2 separate regions of the Homo sapiens genome follow, and region 1 is linked to region 2. Evidence: fine-mapped expression QTL. Tissue or cell type: whole blood. Region 2 holds a variant in brackets; the other region holds the start of a gene. All regions are shown on one strand. Distances are from middle to middle. Region 1 holds the start of MYLK-AS1 (MYLK antisense RNA 1). Region 2 overlaps MYLK (myosin light chain kinase).

The links. PIP is the estimated chance that this variant, and not a neighbour inherited with it, causes the effect.
Region 1: MYLK-AS1 starts here. The variant in region 2 is fine-mapped to the expression of MYLK-AS1 in whole blood (TOPMed, PIP above 0.99).

Annotation. Positions count from the first base shown.
Region 1 is chr3:123,580,543-123,591,269 of GRCh38, reverse strand. MYLK-AS1 (MYLK antisense RNA 1) reads right to left here and starts at 5,757. Exons shown (of 4, transcript NR_121654.1): 1 at 5,717-5,757; 2 at 5,469-5,623. It overlaps HACD2 (3-hydroxyacyl-CoA dehydratase 2), which reads left to right and starts at 6,217. Exons shown (of 7, transcript NM_198402.5): 1 at 6,217-6,397; 2 at 8,941-9,058. The coding sequence starts at 6,243. RefSeq lists silencers at 242-442, 6,093-6,702, 6,713-6,892 and an enhancer at 5,733-6,032.
Region 2 is chr3:123,635,886-123,646,612 of GRCh38, reverse strand. MYLK (myosin light chain kinase) reads left to right here. Exons shown (of 34, transcript NM_053025.4): 28 at 6,109-6,326; 29 at 8,419-8,542. Among named protein-coding and RNA genes, the nearest start is that of MYLK-AS2, 48 kb to the left of the region's middle. RefSeq lists an enhancer at 10,005-10,666. The variant A/G (reference allele first, on the strand shown) is at 6,014.

The DNA.
Region 1 (10,727 bases), 55 kb after region 2:
TGTTAATAGCTGAGACAATGGGGAAAAATGTCTCCAGGGAATTTCAGAGATCTTCAGGACAGCCCCTCCCATCACAGACCTAGAGGCCTAGGAGGGAAAAATAGTTTCCTGGGCTAGGCAGGCCCAGGGCTCTACTGCTGTGTGCAGCCTCAAGACATGGTGCCCTGTGTCCCAGCCACTCCACCTCATGGCTAAAAGGGGCCAAGGTACAGCTTGGGCCATTGCTTCAGAGGGTACAAGCCCCAAGCCCTGGCAGCTTTTATGTGGTGTTGGGCCTGCAAGTGTGCAGAAGCCAAGAGTTGAGGTTTAGAAACCTATGCCTAGATTTCAGAGGATGTATGGAAATGACTGGATGTCCAGTCAGAAGTCTGCTGCATGGGCGGAGCCCTCATGGAGAACCCCTACTAGTGCAGTGCAAAAGGGAAATGTGGGGTTGGAGCATCCACACAGAGTCCCCACTGGGGCAATACCTAGTGGATCTGAGAATAGGGCCACTGTCCTCCAGACCCCAGAATGGTAGATCCACCAACAGCTTGCACCCTGGACCTGGAAAAGCTTCAGGCACTCAACTCCAGCCCATGAAAGCAGCCTTTGGGACTGTACCCTGCAGAGCCACATGGCAAGAGCTGCCCAAAGCCTTAGGAGCTCACCTCTTCAATCAGCATGCACTGGATGTGAGACATGGAGTCAAAGGAGAGTATTTAAGAGGTTTAATATTTAATGACTGCCCAACCAGGTTTCAGACTTGCATGGGGCCTGTGGCCCCTTTGTTTTGGCCAATTTCTCCCATGTGGAATGAGAACATTTACCCAATGCCTGTACCCCCATTGTATCTTGGAAGTAACTAACTTGTTTTTGATTTTACAGGCTTGTAGGTGAAAGAGACTTGCCTTGTCTCAGATCAGACTTTGAACTTGGACTTTTGAGTTAATGCTGAAATGAGTTAAGACTTTGGGGTACTGTTGGGAAGGTATGATTGGAATAGCATGTGCAAATTCCCTGAGGCAAAAAAGGAGTACTGCTCGATGGAAGACCTAAGATGAGGCCAGTATGACTAGGAGGGGCATGGTGAGACTGAGGAGGCAGGTAGGGTCTAGTCTATGCAGATTTTTGTATACCATATTAAATATTTTATGCTTTATCCTAAGTGTCATCAAAAGCCATTTAAATATCTTCAGGGGTGGGGCAGAGGAAGGTAGTAGACACGAACAAGGTTGTATGTGGAAAAGATCACTTTGGCTGTACTGTAGAGCAGGGGTCCCCAACCTCTGGGCCACAGACTGGTACAGGTCCATGGCCTGTTAGGAACCCAGCCACACAGCAGGAGGTGAGCAGCAGGCAAGTGAGCATTACCACCTGATCTCCACCTCCTGCCAGACCAACAGCGGCATTAGATTCTCATAGGAACACGAGCCCTATCATGAACCATGCAGGCGAGGGATCTAGGTTGCAGGCTCCATCTAATGCCTGCTGATCTGAAGTGAAACAGTTTCATCCTGAAACCATTCCCTCCCCAGTCCATGGAAAAATTGTCTTCCATGAAACCAGTCCCTGGTGCCAAAAAGGTTGGAGATTGCTGCTATAAACAACAGACTGGAGTTGGGCCTAAGTGACTGCAAGAAGATACATTGAGTTTTAAACTGATTTCCAACTGAACAGAACTTTATGCATTCCTGCCTCCTCCTACTTTCCCATTAAGTAGATTATATTGAAAAAAAAATCAGTCAAATGAATGAAAGAAGCTTTTAGATGAATGATTATTTGGTTTTGTAAAATGGTTCACTTCTTTATTTCTTTTGCAAAGAAATTTTTTTGCCCTCTGATCACAGTGTGCAATTTGGGCTCACCAACTTGCTCTTTGAAAAATTCAGGAAGGTCGGGTGTGGTGGTTCATGCCTATAATCCCAGCATTTTGGGAGGCCGAGGCAGGTGGATCACCTGAGGTCACGAGTTCGAAACCAGCCTGGCCAACATGGCAAAATCCCGTCTCTACTAAACATACAAAAATTAGCTGGGCGTGGGGGCAGGCACCTGTAATCCCAGCTACTTGGAAGGCTGAGGCAGGAGAATTGCTTGAACCTGGGAGGCGGAGGTTGCAGTGAGCCAAGAGTGTGCCATTGCACTCCAGTCTGGGGGACAAGAGCAAGACTTCGTCTCCAAAAAAAAAAAATTTCAGGAAAACAAGGCAACAGAATCTCTGAACAATCTGCCATGGCGGGAAAGGATGGGACCCTGACAATTGTCAACTTATGCCTCTCACTTCATCTCTTGAGGTCTTGAAACTTCTTTTGCAAAAATTGTAACAGTGAGAAAATTATGACTGAGAGAGATCTGATCTAACCAGCCCCCACCTTGACTCTGTAAATCAAAGAACACGATCAAGGCAAGTCTCAATCATTTTAGGAGGTTTATTTGCCATAGTAAAGGATGCATGCCAGGGAGGCAGGTATATGCCTATCTCCAAAGATGATTTTGAGGGCTTCAGTACTTAAAGGGGAAAGGGTGGATACTGGGGGAAGAGAAATTTTTTTTTTTTTTTGAGACAGAGTCTCGCTCTGTCACCAGGCTGGAGTGCAGCGGCGCAATCTCGGCTCACTGCAACCTCCAACTCCAAGCGATTCTCTTGCCTCAGTCTCCCAAGTAGCTGGGACTACAGGCGCGCACCACCACACCCAGCTAATTTTTGTATTTTTAGTAAAGATGGGGTTTCACCATACTGGCCAGGCTGGTCTCAAACTCCTGACCTCCTGATCTGCCTGCCTGGCCTCCCAAAGTGCTGGGATTACAGGCGTGAGCCACCACGCCCAGCCAAGAAATATTTTTAAATTGTGTCAGTAGATAAAAAGATAAAACAGTTGCATCCTTTTGAATACACAATTTTCATGTGAGTGGGGAGTGGAGGAAATATTCATGCCTTAGTCTGGCTCAGTTAATCTGTATTTTTACATAAGATAACGTAGACAATAGGGCAGAGGAAGCAATCAGATATGCATTTGTCTCAGGTGAGGAGAGGGAAGACTTTGAATTCTGTCCTATGTCCCATACCTGTGAAGATATCAACTTACATTGCCAGGTTGAAATTCAACAGAACTGTTTTAGAGTAAAGATCTTTGGGCCTAAAAGGAATTTCCTTGTGGGTAAAATGTGAGGGAAGTATATAGCTTTTATCTTTGTAGCTATCTTATTTAGGAACCAAATGGGAGGCAGGTTTGTGTGACCCAGTTCCCAGCTTGACTTTTCCCTTTGGCTCAGTGAATCTGGGGTTTTCCTTTCTCATCTTTAACCTCCAAAACTGCCCTTGGTCATTCCTGGGCTTGCACCAAGCTAACTTTGGGAGAAACTTAGTTTACAGTTTAAGCGATAATAGCCCCTCCCCAAAACTAAACCACTTTTGTAAAACTAATGAAAAGCCACCAGGTTAGAAGGATAAGAGGAGCTTGAATTCTGCTAAGACATAGGCTTTGTTAAGTTAAATGATTACCAGCCACTATTCCAGAGGTCACTAGATTTGCAGCTTCCCCAGTTCACTACTGTAGAACCTAAGATTGGCCTTTTGAGATAAACTTTCAGGCTTCTGCATTTCGGATGGCTGACGACCCCACTGAGACCTTTGACTCTTGGCTCAACCAGTCCTGTGGCCTCCACCCAGAAGCAGGCTCAGTGCAGGGGGACCATTTTCCACACCCCTATAATTGCATTCCCAACCAATCAGCAGCACCCATTCCTCCAGCCTCCTGCCTGCCAAACTGTGTGTGTGTTGGGGGGGGGGTGGGTGTTTTGTTTTGTTTTGTTTTGACTATAGCTCTCAGATCTTAGCCAAACTATTCTTGAAAAACCCTACCCTCTGAATTTTGGGGGAGATTTGGAGTAATAACTCCATCTCCAAGACCTATCTCATGTCAATTAAATTCTTTATTGCAATGCCATGGTCTCTATGAATTGATTTTGTCTGTGCAGTGGGAAGGAAGAACGTATTGGGTGATTACAGTGTCATGGATTTAAATACCACCACCACCCTCAGAACTCTGAGAAAAGATAATACCTCAAACAGCTCTGAGCTGTCTGAGCTATGTGAAGTATGCAAAAATTTATCAGGCCCAGAGACAAGAGTTTGCCTGGGGGCAACTGTTTAGACATTTTGTTCCTGACTAGCAGCCTCACCCATTATCTTCATGTTCCTGGAATCTGTGATACAAAGAATAGTTTATAGCCAATCAATAGCTAATGTAATTTTAATGTAAATTCTTAGTAAACAACTTAGAAGCTGCCTCTTTTTCCTTTAAAAACCCACTCATAACCGCTGCTAATCAGAGTGTATATTTAGGGTAACTTGAATCTATGCTCCCAGGTAGCCATCTTCAACCTTTATGCTTGAATAAACTTCCTTTAAACTAGATTCTTACCTTTTTTATTATTTTAGGTTGACAACTCTCAAATTTATATCTCTAGCCCATTGGACTTCCTTCCCGAACCTCAGGGTCTAAATTTAATTGTCTATCCAGCCTCTCCACTTGGATGTTTAATAAGGATTTCAAATTCAACATATAAAAAACAAAATTCCCGACTTCCGCCTTAAAAATGGTTTCTTACAAGTTGCTCAAAACGCCTTTGACCTCACACTCCAAAACTAACATATCCACAAATCTTATAATTCTACTTCTAAAATACGCACAGAATTCATTGTTGTTTTCATCACCTCGATTTCCACCACTCTGGCCCACACCACTATCACCATGGCTGGATTATTGTAATAACTTCCTGATACCACTTTTCACCAACTAATACGAGCATTTTCGTCTGGTTCCCTCAGGGGTCCTTAAGCCCCAGGCTGCGGATAGAACCAATCCCTGGCCTGTTAGGAACCAGGAGGCACAGCAGGAGGTGAGCAGCAAGCAAGGGAGCATTACCTCCTGAGCTCCGCCTCCCTCAGATCAGCGGTGGCATCAGATTCTCATAGGAGCGGGGAACCTATTGTGAACTGCGCATTGGAGGGATCTAAGTTGTGTGCTCCTTATGAGAATCTAATGATAAATGTAATGCCTTTGAATCATCCTGAAACCATCATCCACCCCCCCACCACGAAACCGGTCCCTGTTGACCAAAAGGTTGGGGGCCGCTGCTCTATATAATCCCTGGGAGACTGACGACTTTGTCTCTTTCACTTAGTGCCATGAACTCCAGGGCAACTTTGTGGACGCTCCATAAACACTTGCTGGAATGAACCCATAAATATTTTATACTACCACATATACAGTAATACATTTAAGGAGCTGCTTGGGTGTGTAAAAAATTGCAGGGGACGTTTACAAATAAAGAACCTCCTGAAACAAAGCAATGAATGGAAAGTGGGATCAGCTGGTTGAAGCAATGCCCACAAGCTGCTCCAGCTTCCCAAAGCAGAGAGGTTTTCCACCTAAGCCAACATCCTTTTATTTTTAGTCACTATAGCTATAAATCTACTCCCTTACCCCGCACCTCACTCTCAGCCGACAGCCCAATGGGCTTATCCTCCTCTCGCCCTCACGATGAGCGAGTCCACGCGGTCTCAGGCTGGAAGATGCACTTGAACACCAGCCAAGCACTCACGGACGACACTGGATTCTAGGCCGCCTGGGCTTCTCCACTGTACTAGGAATGTAAAATCAAAAGTCAGAAAGAAAACTTCGGAGGTGGAATCTCCAACCCGGCAACGGGTTAGGAAGCAAAGCGCACCTACCAAAGGGCTGGTCCCTGCAGCCTCAAGGGCTGATGGGAAGTGAATCCACCGTCAACCGCCCTGATCCAAAATGGCAGGATACCGGAGCAATAGTGTTCAGGTGTGAAGATAGGGCAATTGAAGAAGGGAGAACGAAAGCATAATTGTTTTGATTCAACATGGAAGCAGTGATTATAGGAGGGCGAATAGCGAGGGACGACGCAACATCCAGCTGGCAGAAGCAGCGGGCCTGGAGAGGGTGGCTACATTGAACTAATCCAAGATGGCGCCGAGGTTGTAACCGGGAGCGCCCAAGAGGCGGGAATTACCCTGATCCAAGATGGCAGTGGCAACTGAGGCAAGCCGAAAGACGGGAGCGCCAGGAGCGTCTTTGCCCTCAGCCAAGATGGCGGCTGCCGTGGACCCTGTCCCGGCTCCGCCCCGCGGCCCTGGCCCCGCCTGCCCCTCGTCCCTTCCTCCGCCCCCTCTCCTCGCGTAGTCCGGCCCGAGCCGCTCGCGCTAGGAGAGCGGGCTTCGGGCACTTGACATGGCGGCAGTGGCGGCGACTGCAGCAGCGAAGGGGAATGGGGGCGGCGGTGGCAGGGCCGGGGCCGGGGACGCCAGCGGCACGCGGAAGAAGAAGGGCCCGGGGCCCCTGGCCACGGCGTACCTGGTCATCTACAATGTGGTGATGACAGCCGGGTGAGGCTGGGGCTCGGGGAGGCGGGGAGCCAGCGCGGCCGGGGAGGGAGCCCTGCGGCCAGCGGCGGGGCGGATAGGATCGGCGCGGCCCGCCGCAGGCAGTGCATTCCCGGCGGGGGGTGCCCGGGACCCGGTACCTGGGCGCTGAGGGCGGCCGAGCGCTGAATCGGCCCCGGTGGCTGCCCGCGAGCTCCCTCCTGCGCTGGGGGTCGAGCCAAGTTCCCAGGCACTGGGGCGCGGGGACGGCTGCCGGGCGCTGGCTCGCGAGGGCCGCGGGAGGAAAGGTGGGGCTGGCCACAGGTGCGGGGCCGGGGGCAGCGGCCGGACTACCTGCGGCGCGGAGCCCGTCCTGGGCGGCCAGATTCGGATGTTGAACGGCGCCAGCATGGGGAGTGGAGGAGCTGTGGCTGCAGAGTGACCATTCATTTGGGCGGCTGTTTTCAAAATCTGGGCTGCGCTTTAATCTGAAAGGTATTGGGAAAGCGTTCAAAGTTTTTGGCCAGCGACATGAGCAGAGCTAGGCTTTAGATGAGTTTAGACTTTTAGGATGGGTTGGGGTGGGGAAGAAACTGGGGAGTAGAAGGCAGAGTTACTGGAAAGGGGGAGAATGGACCCTCGAAACGGTTTTACCCATCTTCTGTCTCTTTCATTTCAGTGCATCCCTTATCCCGGCGGGTTTTTAGTTCAAGCTCTGCCACTAACTAGCTGTGTGACTTTGGATAAATCATCTTATTTCTCTAGCCTCCGTTTTTTCATTTGTAAAACTAAAGGGTTGGTCTGGGTGATGAAGGTTCCTTCAGCTCTGCAATTCTTTATCTTGTCATTTTGGTGAGGAGGATCACAGCATCAGACAGTTATATATTTTTAAGTTATCTTCATTTGTAATTTTTTAAGAAGTCCTAACATTTTATTATGAAAAATTTCAAACATACAGAAGAGTTGAAAGAATTGTATAGTGAACATCCATTTTTATTTAAAGTAGGTGATACATTGTTAGGGTTAAAAATGAAAAACATGAGGGAATACAGTGAAAATCTTTCCTCCCACCTTTCCCTTCTACCCAGCTCCCCTCCCTCGAGGCAGTTAATTTTGTGTATCCTTAAGATGCTGATGCAAGCAAATATGTTTATACATCCCCCTATCCCTTTTTAAAATAAGACAAATGCCAATATATTAATATTTTTACAGTTCAGCACCTTGCTTTTTTTTCACGAAGAAGAAAATATATCGTGGGAGGATCATATATGTATTGCTAGTATTAGAAATGGTAGGTGTTGGAACCTAGGCTCAGAGAAGTTGTGACTTGCATGAGATCATAGAACTTGTTAGTAGAAGTTCCAGATCTAGAAATCATTTCTCTTGACTCACAGGTCAATGAAGAACTAGTACAGATACAAGCTTTATATCACATCAGTGGTCACATAGATTGATTTTTAAAAAAACATCCAGGAATCTCACTGTGTGTATTAATATTTATATATAAAATTCTTGTTGTCTTAGCAAGAGCCGGTGAGGGCATTGGACTGGAGAGGGATTTTGAGGTACATTGGTAAGAAGAAAGAAGTCTATTCCTGAGCAATGAACATAGAGAATGGGGTGGAGGGTAAGGAGTGGTATCTTAAACCAGGAAGATAAATTGGGATTGTGAGAGCAAAGTAAGCTTTTTTTTTAAGGCTGTTAATGGTTGTACCAGTTACACCATTAAATAATTTCTTCTTTTACAAACTCTTACTTGATGTCCTTATGTGATAGTTTTTGGAAATAGCATAGACCACACACACCCCATTGCCTAGTTGATACTATACATTTATCTAAATCCTTCCAGGAGACATACCTTAATAAAAAGGTCCATTTGTTTTATTATGGAACTTAACAAAACATTGTGTTTATTTTTGAGAAGGACAGTGGAACAAAAATATAACATTCACAGCTGTATGCTTAAGTGCTTTCCTGTTTCGTGGTTTGTATTGATCTGGCTTTCATTTCTGCATTGATTTTAGGAAATTTGGCTAAAAAACTTTTTTTTTTTAGCAAGAGCCCTTTATTCGTAATTTTAAAAGGATAGATTTTAAGGTATGGGTAATTGTTCCAGTGAGACAATTATAACAATAGTTTAAAGCATCTTCTTTCCACCCTGTAATTATTAAAAACCCTTTAACTGCACAGGCTGTTTAAAATTTTCCTTTAACTGTTTTTTTCTCGTCTTAGATTTTCTTGGCACCTGATTTAGTGGCACAAGGACCATTTTAGCTTATTCCTTTCCTTTTGGCCTTGATCTCAATAGCAAAGTTGCCAAAAAAATGAGCTCCAGATGGGTGAGGTGCCACTATGCTTTCACTGAGCCCTCTTGGTAAGGTGCTGTCGGTGTTGCAACATTTCAGTGCATTACAGCTTGGCATTTGAGAGCTATCGTCCATAAATCCAGGTTACTCATGCTTGAGGTCACCTTTAGCAATATCTTTTATTGCCACAGCTGTGTGTTAACCTAAATGCTACTTTTTTTATTTTTATTTTTTCCTGATTGCTGTTTTCTCTTTTACTAGGTGGCTGGTTATAGCGGTTGGTCTGGTCCGAGCATACCTGGCTAAGGGTAGCTACCATAGCCTTTATTATTCAATTGAAAAGCCTTTGAAATTCTTTCAAACTGGAGCCTTATTGGAGGTAGGTCCTGAGATTTATTGTTGTTATTGATTTCCATTGGTATGAAGAAAAACATGCAACTAAATTATATTGAAGTAGCATACCCCCTTTGGATTCATGTTAAATTTTGAAATTTTGCCTCCTCACATACTAAAGTGTTGATACCTAGGCTTTTTGATGTTCTAGATTGGGTAGAATCTCATTTAACTTAGGTTACCTTGAATGTATTTTATATTCGACTTTTTTGGGAAATCAACTGAAGCAAGCTTATATTAGGATTTTTAAAAATTCTAGGGACATCCTGGGGAAGCACTGGCAAAATCAGATGCTTTCAGGGTTTATGTAATAGAAATAGTGAAGTTGGTGGGTGTAGGATATTGGAAGTGATAGATAGAAGACATAATAGAGAGCCTGTCTAGAGGCGTCCAAATTTTAAAAATTTAACAAAAATGTATTGATTTCCCTGCATTAAGGGCAATGTATATCCAGCCCTCTCTCTTGGGGTAAGTATAGATTAGGATTTTGGAATTGCAAGGGACAAAAACCCAATTCAAACTATTTTAAGCAAAAAAGGAATTTTCTGGCCTCTGTAGTTGATACAGATACAGGATTAATTTACAAAGAAACTAGCTCAGGAATGAGAACCAAGGAGCTGACACTGCCAGATTCTCTTGCTTTCTCTCATTTCTGCTTGTCTGTTTCTCTTTGAATGTTGGTCTTGGGCTCTCCACATGGTGGGAAACAGGGAGGGTGTTTATTTTTCGCAGCATCTGTGTCACACAGTTCCCAGAGAGGATTCTGGTTGGCCCTACTTAGACTATGCCAGTGATGTGAGGTGCTTGATTAGCCAATCTTAGGACACATGCCCATTCTTCTGTCCAAGGGACTATAGACTTTGCTTATGGAAAAGAGGGATGGGGATAGCTTTGGGCACACAAAATCAATAGCCGCCATAGTTCGTATATTTCATTATGGTGAAAAACCTTCAGATTGCAGGGAAGATCTGGTTCATTTTGCTTAGCCTCCAGGCAAGACCATCATAACATTTATACTTTACTGGCAACTTTTAAAACCTGAACTATGGAATGATACTTAAGAAAAAATCATTTATCTCGCTGGGCACGGTGGCTCACGCCTGTAATCCCAGCACTCTGGGAGGCCGAGGCGGGTGGATCACGAGGTCAGGAGATTGAGACCGTCCTGGCTAACACAGTGAAACCCCGTCTCTACTAAAAATACAAAAATTAGCCGGGTGTGGTGGCACGGGCGTGTGGTCCCAGCTACTGGGAGGCAAGGTTGCAGTGAGCTGAGATCACGCCACTGTACTCCAGCCTGGGCAACAGAACGAGACTCTGTCTCAAAAAAAAAAAAAAAAAAAATTCTTTATCTCATGAAATGAAGTGTGATACCTCTACCTTTCATTCTCAATTTTTTTTTTTTTCTTGAGACAGGGTCTTGTTCTGTCGCCCAGGCTGGAGTGCAGTGGTGCCATCATGGCCGTGGCTCACTGCAGCCTTGAACTCCTGGGACCAAGCAGTCCTCCCACCTCAGCTTGCAGAGTAGCTGGGCCCACAGGCTTGCACCACCATACATGGATAATTTTTAAAACTTCATAGAGACAGGGTCTCCCTGTGTTGCCCAGGCTGGTCTCAAACTCCTTGGCTCAAGCAATCTTCCCATCTCAGCCTCC
Region 2 (10,727 bases):
CATTGTTTCTTCTGCACCTGAATCCTCCACCTCCCTTACCTCTGAGCTGTTGGTGCATGCGTGTACACACGCACACACACACATGCACACACACACACATACAGTCAAGCATGCACACTGGCATCAGCAAGCCAGGCATCCCCCACAGCATCTGCATTCTTAACAGTTTCCTTTTTTATCTGAATTTTTAGAATATATGCTACAATCACCTCAAAAAATATTAGGAAATACACAGTGAAAAGTCTAATTTCCACCATTATTCCTGTCTATCCTTTCCTAAACACTACAACCATCACCAACACAAACAATTTTATTGGCTTTTATCTGTATCCTTCCAAAGTTTCTTTATGAAAATATAAGTGTATACAGACACACACACACATATATATATTCTTATTTTCTTGCCTTTTAACACAAAAAGTAACTTCTTATACTCACTGTCATATACTTTGCTTTTTTAGTTTGGTTTGTTTGTTGTTGTTGTTGTTTGAGACAGAGTCTCACTCTGTCGCCGAGGCTGGAGGGCAGTGGTGCCATCTCGGCTTATTGCAACCTCCGCCTCCCAGGTTCAAGCGATCCTCCCACCTCACCACAGGCTCACGCCACCTCACCCAGCTAATTTTTGTATTTTTGTACAGATAGGATTTCACCATGTTGCCCAGGCTGGTCTCGAACTCCTGGGCTCAAGCGATCCATCTGCCTCAGCCTCCCAAAGTGCTGGGATTACAGGCGTGAGCCACCGCACCCAACCTACTTTGCTTTTTCAGCAAATTGCTATGGGAGTTAGTCCCATCTCACTACCTAGTGAGCTTCCTCATTCTCACAGCTCTGTGGGGTTTTGTTGTATAGAAAATCACAATTCATTTAAGCAGCCTTCTTTTGATAGAGATTGAGTGGTTTCCAGCCTTTTGCTTTTACAAACAAGCATCGTTTGTAACCTTGTACACACATCTTTTCACTCATGCCTGTGAATATCTATAGGATAAACTCCCAGAAGTGAAGGAGAGCTGGGTTAAAGGGTATGCACATTTGAAATCTTTAGAGATATTGTGAAATTGCTTTCAACATCCTTGAAATGCTCATCCTGAACTTGGGGGGTCTCTGTCCTTTGGTGAGGGCTCTGTTAGCATCTTGGAATTCTCTCCCAGGAAAGTTGAGTCCAGTAAGACATCCCCAAGCTGTAGATATGAGTGGAATATTAGTCTTTTCTCTCCCCTCATGCCATTAACATTCTGGCACACAAGTATTTCCTTTCCGTATGTGTTCCTTAGGAAAGGCAATAGTAGTTCCGAGTGTAGGCTTGAGTCAGATGAACCTTACTTCAAATCCCAGCTCTGCTTCTAACTTGTTATTTGACCTTGAGTAAGTTATTCTATTGTACCAATCCCTAGTTTTATTATCCATAAATGTAGATACGACACCCACCTCATGAACGCTGTGGGATTCAATGCAATAATGCATATAGGGCACAGTGCTCTATAATGGGGAGTTATTGTTAGTAGTATGATACATTGACTTTTTTTGTATCCTGGTTTTTTTCCACTTAAAAATACTTTTTGAGCATTTAACTTCCAACAAGGTGTTGTGGAACAAATCCTCCCTAGTATTCAGGAAGCCTGGCTTCAGTTTCTGCTACTATTGAGTCATGATTTTGCAATTGTCAAATCCTATCAGCACGAAGAAGTACTTGGATTAGAACAGTCAATCTCAAGATGCCCCTTTTGGTTATAAAATTCTACTATTTCATGGAACCATAAAAGACGCGGTGAAGAATTTCCATTCGTATCTTACAATCTACATTCAGCCCCAAATTCAAATGTTCCTCCCCATTTTCAGGAAATACGTAGCCCACATCTGTGACCTCATTCTTTACACCCTCACAATAGCCCCGTGGGCTGCATCTTTTCACATTTATTCTAGAACAGGTTGCTTAGTCCAGGCGGTGTGGGCATGTGAGGACATGTGGAGAAATGTCTTATCTTTAGAAGTTAAACCTTGAGCAAGTTGAGAGGGTGCAGGGAGGGCAGGAGTCACAGGGCCTGGGGAAGGCTAGGCAGCAGCACCAGTGGGCAGAATACCATACTTAGCTTGGAATTGGGAGTTGGCAAGCTGGATGGAAAAAGCAAAGAGAAAATGTAAGAAAGCTTCAGCTAGTCTGGCTTTCATCCCTCCACCCCATGCCTCCCCTGTGGACAGCAGCAGGTCTTCCATGCCCAGATACCAGAAAATTTGCCTGCACTTGGGACCTTGGCCAGGTCGCCAAGAGTAGGAACTTGGTAAGAACTCAGTCAACCAAAGAAGAAGGGAACAGGTTCATACTCCATCTATACATCCCTTCCAGCTTAAACACTCTAAGACTTGACCACTGAGAAGGGAAAGAATGATTTTCACCAGTGCAATGTGCTAACCTTGTTGGATGGAGAAACTGAGATTAAAAGAAGGATGATGCCTGGGGATAGAATAATGGAAATGTATTCCAGGGTCCCTGCCTTAAGTCCAGTTGCTTCAGATCTAGTGGGAAATAGTAATGAATGTGTCTTCATCCTTTCTGACTTCTGATTACTGGATGAGCCCCCACCATATAGTAGTTGGTCTGACACAGCAGTTCCTTCAGGCCCCTGGCCTACTTGGGCTTGTCCTTTTGGAAGTGCTTGGGACATTCCAGGTGGTTGTGGGACCCTGAGCATTGAAGACAATGTGAAGTTTAAGCTGTGTCATCCATGGCTCATCTCATGTTTGTGCTACTATTAGCAAAATTTATCAAAGAACGTTCCAGCTGGCTGCCATAGGGCAAGGAGCGGAGGGTCTCGAGTCCAGTGATAGCACCATTCCTTCTTGCTTCCTATGAGAGCTAGCCAAGGTCTAGGGTTTGGGGGATGAATCTGATTCCTTAGGATAGGGATCACTTATTTATTTAGTCATTCACTCACTCACCATTAATTTAAGCCTAATCTTGGCCCTTGGCATTATCCCATTACTGTGGGTGGCAGTTTCTGTCTATCAAACCAATATTTTCCACCCATAGCATTAAGTATTTTGAAGATAAACCCACAGAACCATTAATCCTGCCTCTTTAACCCCTTCCATCTTAGAAAGTTGAACCATAGGAACAGTTTTCAAAATATAATAAGTATATCTGAATAGGATTGAACCTATTTGAATTTATATTGAATAGGTTTCCTCCAGAAATGCAGCAGGAATTATCTCCATGGCTCAGATTCCCACCACTCACTGCCTCAGACATTCCCAAGGGCATTGAAAACAATGGTTGCTTGCTTTTTCAGAATATTTAAAATTTAAATGTAAACATTTTGGAGCACCTTGTCTGTGCCAAATATAGTCGGAGGCAAATAAGGGTCTAGAGATGAGCCTGCCACCTGTGATGTGTTCAGAACTTCAAGGCAAAGCCAACTTGATACACAAAGTGCGGAGACGAGGCCATGGACATAAGGCCATGGAAAGTGCAGAGACAAGGCTATGGACATAAGGCCATGGATGCCCAGTGAGGGAAAGATCATTCCATGTGAAGAAATGGGGAGTGACTTTTTCAGAGGGCGTGAATTTCAGCTGGCCTCCCAGGAGTGGTAGTTGAGTAAGCCAGTATTTCTCAAACTTGTCTGATCATAAGGATGACCTGGAGTAATTATTACAAATATAGATCCTCAGATCTCTCCCAAGACTTTCTAAATCAAAATCTCCAGAGGAGGAGCTTGGGAATTTGTATTTTTAATAAGAGCCCCAAGTGATTCTTTACATAGAAAATTGATCATTAATATTGAGCATTGACTGTGTGCCAGACACTTCCAAGCACTTTACCTGTGTTGACTCATTTAGTCTTTGAAGCCACCCTGTGAGGTGAGGCTGTTTTTAATCTGCATCTTACAGATGAGGAAAATGAAGCACAGAGATGTTAATAACTGGCTGAGACCTAAGAATACTTGTAGATGAGAGTTTGTCTTGGAGCCTTGGCAGAGAGCAATAGAAATGGAGGGCATAAGGACAAGAGCGCCACCTGCAGGCCATTTGGGGACCTTCTTCTCAGATGGGTTTTAAAGTATGAGTTCTAGCTCCCTCCAGCTGTCACTGGCACAGACTGACCTTCTCCAGTTCAGCCCTTCCAGAAGTGAGTGTGTGTGTCACGTGGCAGAGGCTGTGGTATGCTGGGCCCCACAGTGCATCCCTGTCTCTCTCCTGCAGGGGTCAGTGACAAGATCCACCTAGCCCACCACAGCTTATCAAACGATAAGTAATAAGTGTTGAGCACCTTCTGTGTGTTAGGCATGATACTTTACAAAGCCTCCTACATTCCTAAAAACTCTATGAGGCAGGGATAGATAAGGAAACTGGGACTCAGAAAGGTTAAGCAACTTGCCCAATGTCACACAGCTCATAAAAGGCAGAAGCAGGATTCAAACTCAGCTCCTTTCCTCTTCGTGAGGACTCTCTGTAGGAGAGGAAATACCCTTGCAAGAGGACAGGCCCAGAACCCACCCGGCCTTGTTCAACTGGTGGACCTACAGGCCACTGCAGAAACATGAGCTTATGACTGGGTGACAGAGAGAGACCCTGTCTCTACAAAACATTAAAAAAATTAGCCAGGTGCGGTGGCACATACCTGTAGTCCTAGCTACTTGGGAGGCTGAGGCAAGAGGATCGCTTGAGCCCAGGAGTTCAAAGTTATGTTGAACTATGATCACAGAACTGCATTCAAGCCTGGAAGACAGAGCAAGACCCTGTCTCAAAAGCGAAAGAAAGGAAAGGAAGGAGGAGGGGAGGGGAGGGGAGAAGGAGGAAAGGAGGGAGGCAAGGGAGGGAAGGGAGGAAGGGAGGGAGGGAAGAGAGGGAGGGAGGGAAGAGAGGGACGGAGGGAGGAAGGCAGGCAGGACAGAAGGAAGGACGGAAGGAAGGAAGGAAGGAAGATAGGTAGGTTGGTTGGTTATAGGCCAGGCATGATGGCTTATGCCTGTAATCCCAGCACTTTGGGAGGCTGAGGTGGGATAATCGCTGGAGACCAGGAGTTCCAGACCAGCTTGGGCTCCCCTCCCCTCCTCCTTCCTTTCCTTTCTTTCACTTTTGAGACAGGGTCTTGCTCTGTCACCCAGGCTTGAGTGCAGTTGTGTGATCATAGCTCAACATAACTTTGAACTCCTTGTCTCTACCAAAAAAAAAAAATTGAAGAAGAAAAAAAGAAAAGCAAGCTTACTGATATCTGGGTGCTGCATAAGTTACCAGAGAGATGCTTTAAACTTGCTAAGCAGAGACCAAGAAAGGTGGGTCAGAGGGCTAGGACAGGGGAACAGAGAGGACTCATGCAACTCAGGCGGTGGGGCCATGCATTTGCACTGAAGGGCAATATGCTGATGGCTGAGACCCCGGGGCAGTCCCTAGCAGAGGATGCATGCCTGTGGCTGCAGAAGCAAAGTTCACTAGAAATAGCCAGGATCCAAAGCCTATCCAGTTAGAAAGGATTACACAGCTGGGGTAAGGAAGGGGTCCAAGGGAGACCAGTTAATTATGACTGCAGGGAGTAAACCAATACTATAGGCCTGGCCAGAGTAAGCAAATCTGTCACAGCTGTAGGTATAATGAGTTACAGCCAACTAATTTTAGAAAATTTGCTGAGGCTCATTATTGATGATTGAAGATATTTTTCCGTTCCTGGCTATGCAGAACAAATGCTTGTGGGAACTGTGAGTATTTTGAACTTGAGTTCCCTGTGACTAAAAGACACGGCTAGAGTACAAGAATGTTCCCTTAGGCATGTGTGGTCATTTGAGGGAAAGAGACTGTTTAGAGGTCACTCTTTTTGCTAAGAAGATCATGTCTGGATCTCTGTGTTCACACCCACCTCTGAAACTGCCTAGTGTAGATGCTTCCCTGAGTCCCCAGCAGCTTAGAAGGTGCAGGGCAGGGTTCCCTGATGGGAAACCAGGAGGCCCTGACCCTTCTCCCATGTCGGAGGGTGGGGATTCAGGAATTGCCCATCACCCCCATTCCCTGGGCTTTCCTGCCA[A/G]TTTCTCCTACCCCCAGCCTACCCTGGCCAGACTCCCTGCCAGCCTGGCCTCCATGAGCCTGTGGCCTGACCACCCCGTGCACGTGTTCCCGCAGCGTGTCAGGAGGGGAGCTGTTTGAGCGCATCATTGACGAGGACTTTGAGCTGACGGAGCGTGAGTGCATCAAGTACATGCGGCAGATCTCGGAGGGAGTGGAGTACATCCACAAGCAGGGCATCGTGCACCTGGACCTCAAGCCGGAGAACATCATGTGTGTCAACAAGACGGGCACCAGGATCAAGCTCATCGACTTTGGTCTGGCCAGGAGGCTGGGTAAGGCTCATCTGCCTCTCCCATGGACACCAGTGTGTATTGCACTGGCCGTTTCCTCTCACACTGAGTGTGAGAGGAAACATACAGTATTGGGGTTAAATCCGAGACCATGAAGACTTCCCAGGTTTGAATCCTGCCCCTACCACATACTAGACGTGACAGTAAGCCTCAAATTCCCCATCAGAAAAGTGGGATCATAGTAGGACCTAACTCACAGATTTGTTAGGAGGATCAAATGTGTTAATATAGGTAAAGGGATGGGAAGAGTGCTTTGCACATAGTAAGACTGCTTAGGTGTTAGCTGTATATATGATGATGATTATCCCCTTTTGTTTTTCACTCTGGTGCCATTAGCAGCAAAAGTCATTTTGGTGATGGTGGCTCTGCACATCTGCATCATACTGTACAGTTTCTAGAGCACTTTCACATAAAAAATAAACCCTATGATTCTCACCATGAGGTGAGCAGGGTAGATTTTATGAGCCCCAACTTGTAGACTAGGAAACAAAGGTTCACAATAGCTTTGCCCAGGAGGTCCCACTGTGAGCCAGGGGATGTGCTGGGATTGGAACAAGGACCCCAGACCTTGCTCAGGGTGCTCTGCAGCACCTCTGATTCTTATGCTAGCCAGGAGAGAGGTCACAGGGGTAGGCGGTCAGGGTCTCAAGGCCGCCCTGAAAGCACTTTGGTAGATGCCTGCCTGGCTCACATTCTGCCTGCATCCAGCCTGCCTCTGCAGCCCTTTGATGTCCCGGTGATTGAGGAAACAGCTTCATCCTCCCTTCTTAGCCACTGCCCTGCTAGCAAGGAGCCCGAGGGCTGGGGTGAGCTGGCTTTATTTCACCACCCTGCAGGTAGTAGAAAGGAGGGGCCAAATGAATGCCACCCAATAAATGTCTCCCACGATGTTCAGTGCTGGCTGAGGCTGTGTTGGTCATAAAGAGGAAAGGGGTAAGCAGGGGCGAGGTTCCGATAGACTATGACCGGTCTGGTGGTCAGCGCAGTCAGGTGAGAAACATGCCTCGGCGCTGGGCGCATGTGCCTGCTCTGCTCTGCTCACTCCTGCTAAGAGGACAGGGTAGGGGCAGTGGCTGGCATACAGGGCCTGCCTTTGAACAGTGACCACCAATAAATTAAACAAATAGGCCACTGTCCTCAGGAGTCGGCAGTGTCAGAGCCCAGGGAACACAATGTCCAGCTTCCACTGGTGAGGGATACTGTGGGAACAACCGTGTCCACCAAGGACCAGATAACTGAGAAGTGGCTAAAATGTAGCAGAAAGGGCTGAGAGGCAGGAATTGGAGCAGAGCTTTCACATCTGAGGGCTGTTAAATGCTTTGTTTTAGAACATTTGCTGTGAGCTCTGCGAAGTTAAGCAAGACCAGGCATAGCCCACAGGTACCTGCCTTTTGCACATATTAACAGACATCTCTGGTCCTTTATGGCCAAGAGGTACCACCCTGGGGTTGAAGCCTCTCCCGACTACCCTACCAGTAGCTCCTGAAGGACAGCCATGAAGCTGTGTGAGGAGTAGGAGAGGCAGGAGGGAGGAACGGTGGTAAGCATGGCTCAGGAGTTGGACTACCTGGGCTTGAGTCCCGACCACCACTTGTTAACCGGGTGGGGAAATCACTGCACTTCCCTGGGCCTCACTCATGTTCTCAGTAGCACGGGCATTATACCTACCCCTTGGGGTGGGTGAGAACCCTTGTAAAGCTGCCGGTGGGGTACATAGGACATAGTGAATGCTAGAGATTATTATTAAGCATAAGTCACAGTCCCTGCCTAGGGGAACTAACTCATGAGACAGACTCACAAAAAGACCATTCAGGGGCGGGTGATTTAGCGGCCTCTTCTCCCCCTGCCCACCCTGCACAGGACATTTGAGGTGAGTGTGAGGTTTGTTGGTTTCACTGGTGTGTTGACGCACCTGTTTAACAAGGAGGTCAGATGTCTCTGTGCCTGTTCTCTGTGCCAAAGCCTGTGTCTGGCCCCTCCCAGGTTGGGGTCAACACACAGATTCGGGCAGCTGCTGGTCTCAAGCTGGCTCCGTGATGTGCTGGCAATTTATCCCTCTCCATCCTGGTTTCAGAGAATGCGGGGTCTCTGAAGGTCCTCTTTGGCACCCCAGAATTTGTGGCTCCTGAAGTGATCAACTATGAGCCCATCGGCTACGCCACAGACATGTGGAGCATCGGGGTCATCTGCTACATCCTGTGAGTCCTGGGGCACTTGGTGGACTGGTGGACCACTTGGTGGACCAGTGGGTGGGGGCTGAGGGTTCCACAGGAGGGTCCCCAGGCTGCCCTGCCATTGTCATGATGGGGAGCCCCCCCCAGAGTCAGGAGGGTGGCAGGCTCCCCTCCTATCCCTGGCAGCCCACCCTGCTCCTGGGCTCCCAGGGAGTCAGTAGCATGCATATTCTATAGCATCATGTAGCTACACATGCTAAGATCCCCATTCTGGGTGCTCACTGTCCCCAAGGCTGGCCAGCCTGGGGCCTTTGGTCAGGAGGGTGGGAAATGTGGCTGGCACCAAGTAATAAAACCTCACTTGTGTGGGTCCACAAAGAAGGAGGGCAGGAGGCCAGGGGCGAATCTCTGGGCATCCTCATTGTCTTCAGGGCATAGCACTCCATCCCCAAGGCACGGGGACCCCAACTACTAGCCTCATCTTTGAGTCTAGTATATGGATGAATTAATAAACACTATTGATGATCGAGCCTTCAATGGGACTAACAGATAAAAGAAAGTAACACAGTAATTAGAACTGAAAAATCAGGTGGGAAATCCAAAGCCATTTCAATGAACAATAATGCAGGAGAGGGGAGGCCAGCCATCTAGGCCGGCACTTCACAAACATTAGCATGCCTGACTCACCTAGGCGGCTCCTTACATTGCAGGGTTTTTGTTCAGGTCTGGGTGACCTGGAATGCCACATTTCTAACAGGCTCTAGGTTTGTGAATGTGCTGGTTCAACGACTGCGCTCTGAGTAACAAGGCTTGAGAACACTCTGTCGGTGGGGTCTGGCTGCTTTAGTCCCTGAAGCCCCAGGGTGCGGACGGTCATTAGCCCCTGAACCTGTGTGGCCACATGCAGTTATGGGATGGTGTCCCCAAAGATGCAGATGTGTATGCTTTCATTCAATAATGTTTTTACTGTCAGAACAAAAGGAAAAATTTAACATTTTCATAGAAAATGAGGAAGACCTCTATGAATACTTTCTTAGACCCCTGGGGCCTTCAGACTCCAGTGTGAGAGAAGGTTCTGGGCGATTCTGATGCATAGCCAGGTTTAGAAACCAGTGTTATAAAAGCTTTAGCAGAAGTGGTGTGAATTTTGTGCAATGTGACTTTTTCACATGCTCAGGAACTTTACTCACTATAGCCTGTTAGGACAGTCCCCTCAGTGGAACCTGCACCACAGGCATTGTAGTCCAGACAGTTATCCTCTTTCCTGCCTGGGATTAGCCCCACCACCACAGCCTTCCCCAGATCAGCAGAAAAACCCCGGGCCAGGTGTGCATTTCCCTGCCTGTTTCCCTGCCCCGCCCCCTCTTGGAGAAGGGGCGCTGACAAGTGAAGACAGCAGCTGGACTGGAGCTTGACTCCCTGGCTCCCTAGATAAGTAAGGAACAGCAGGGTAGGGGGCGGGGCCAGCCTGCCCCTTTCAGGGCGGCCCCAGGCCTGGGCAGTGCTAACCTCTGGCCCTGGGAAAAACACCAGACCCTTGAGAAGCAGTCCTTGGTCAGCTCTCACTGTTCAGCCCCAGCTGCGCTGTGGTCTCGCTTGGTCCCAGGGTCCCCCTCCAGCCGTCATGGAGACTTGCCTTACTGTTTATTCTTCAGTGGGTTTTCCCACTGCCGTGGCATCAGGATCTTCTGCAGCTACAGATTTTCACATAGGACCTTGTTTGATGCTCACAACAAACCCAAGAGTGGATCATGGCAGGGATTCCATCTTCATGTGGCGTTGAGGTGACAGGGGCCAAGGAAGCCCACGTGGCTGCCCACTTCCCACAGTCGGGCCAGGGGACCAGTCGTCCCAGTCTGCCAGGATACAGGACTTTTGGTGCTAACATGGGAACAGTCCCAGGCAAACCAGGACAATTGGTCTCTCTACTGGTCAGTGACAGAGCAGTGACTAGACTGCTCACTAAGTTTTCACCTGTGTAACCTCTACCCGGATCAAGAAACCAAGCACTGCCAGGCCCCCACAGCCCTCTGGCACCCCTCCCTGTTACCAACCCCCAGAGGTCACCATTACCCTCAAGGCTAATGTCAATGAAATCATACAGAAAGAAGTGTCTGGCTTTTTTTGCTTGACATCGTTTGTGAGACTCATTCATAGTACTATGTGTCATTGTAGACTGTTTATTCTCAGTGTTATGTAGTATCCCATT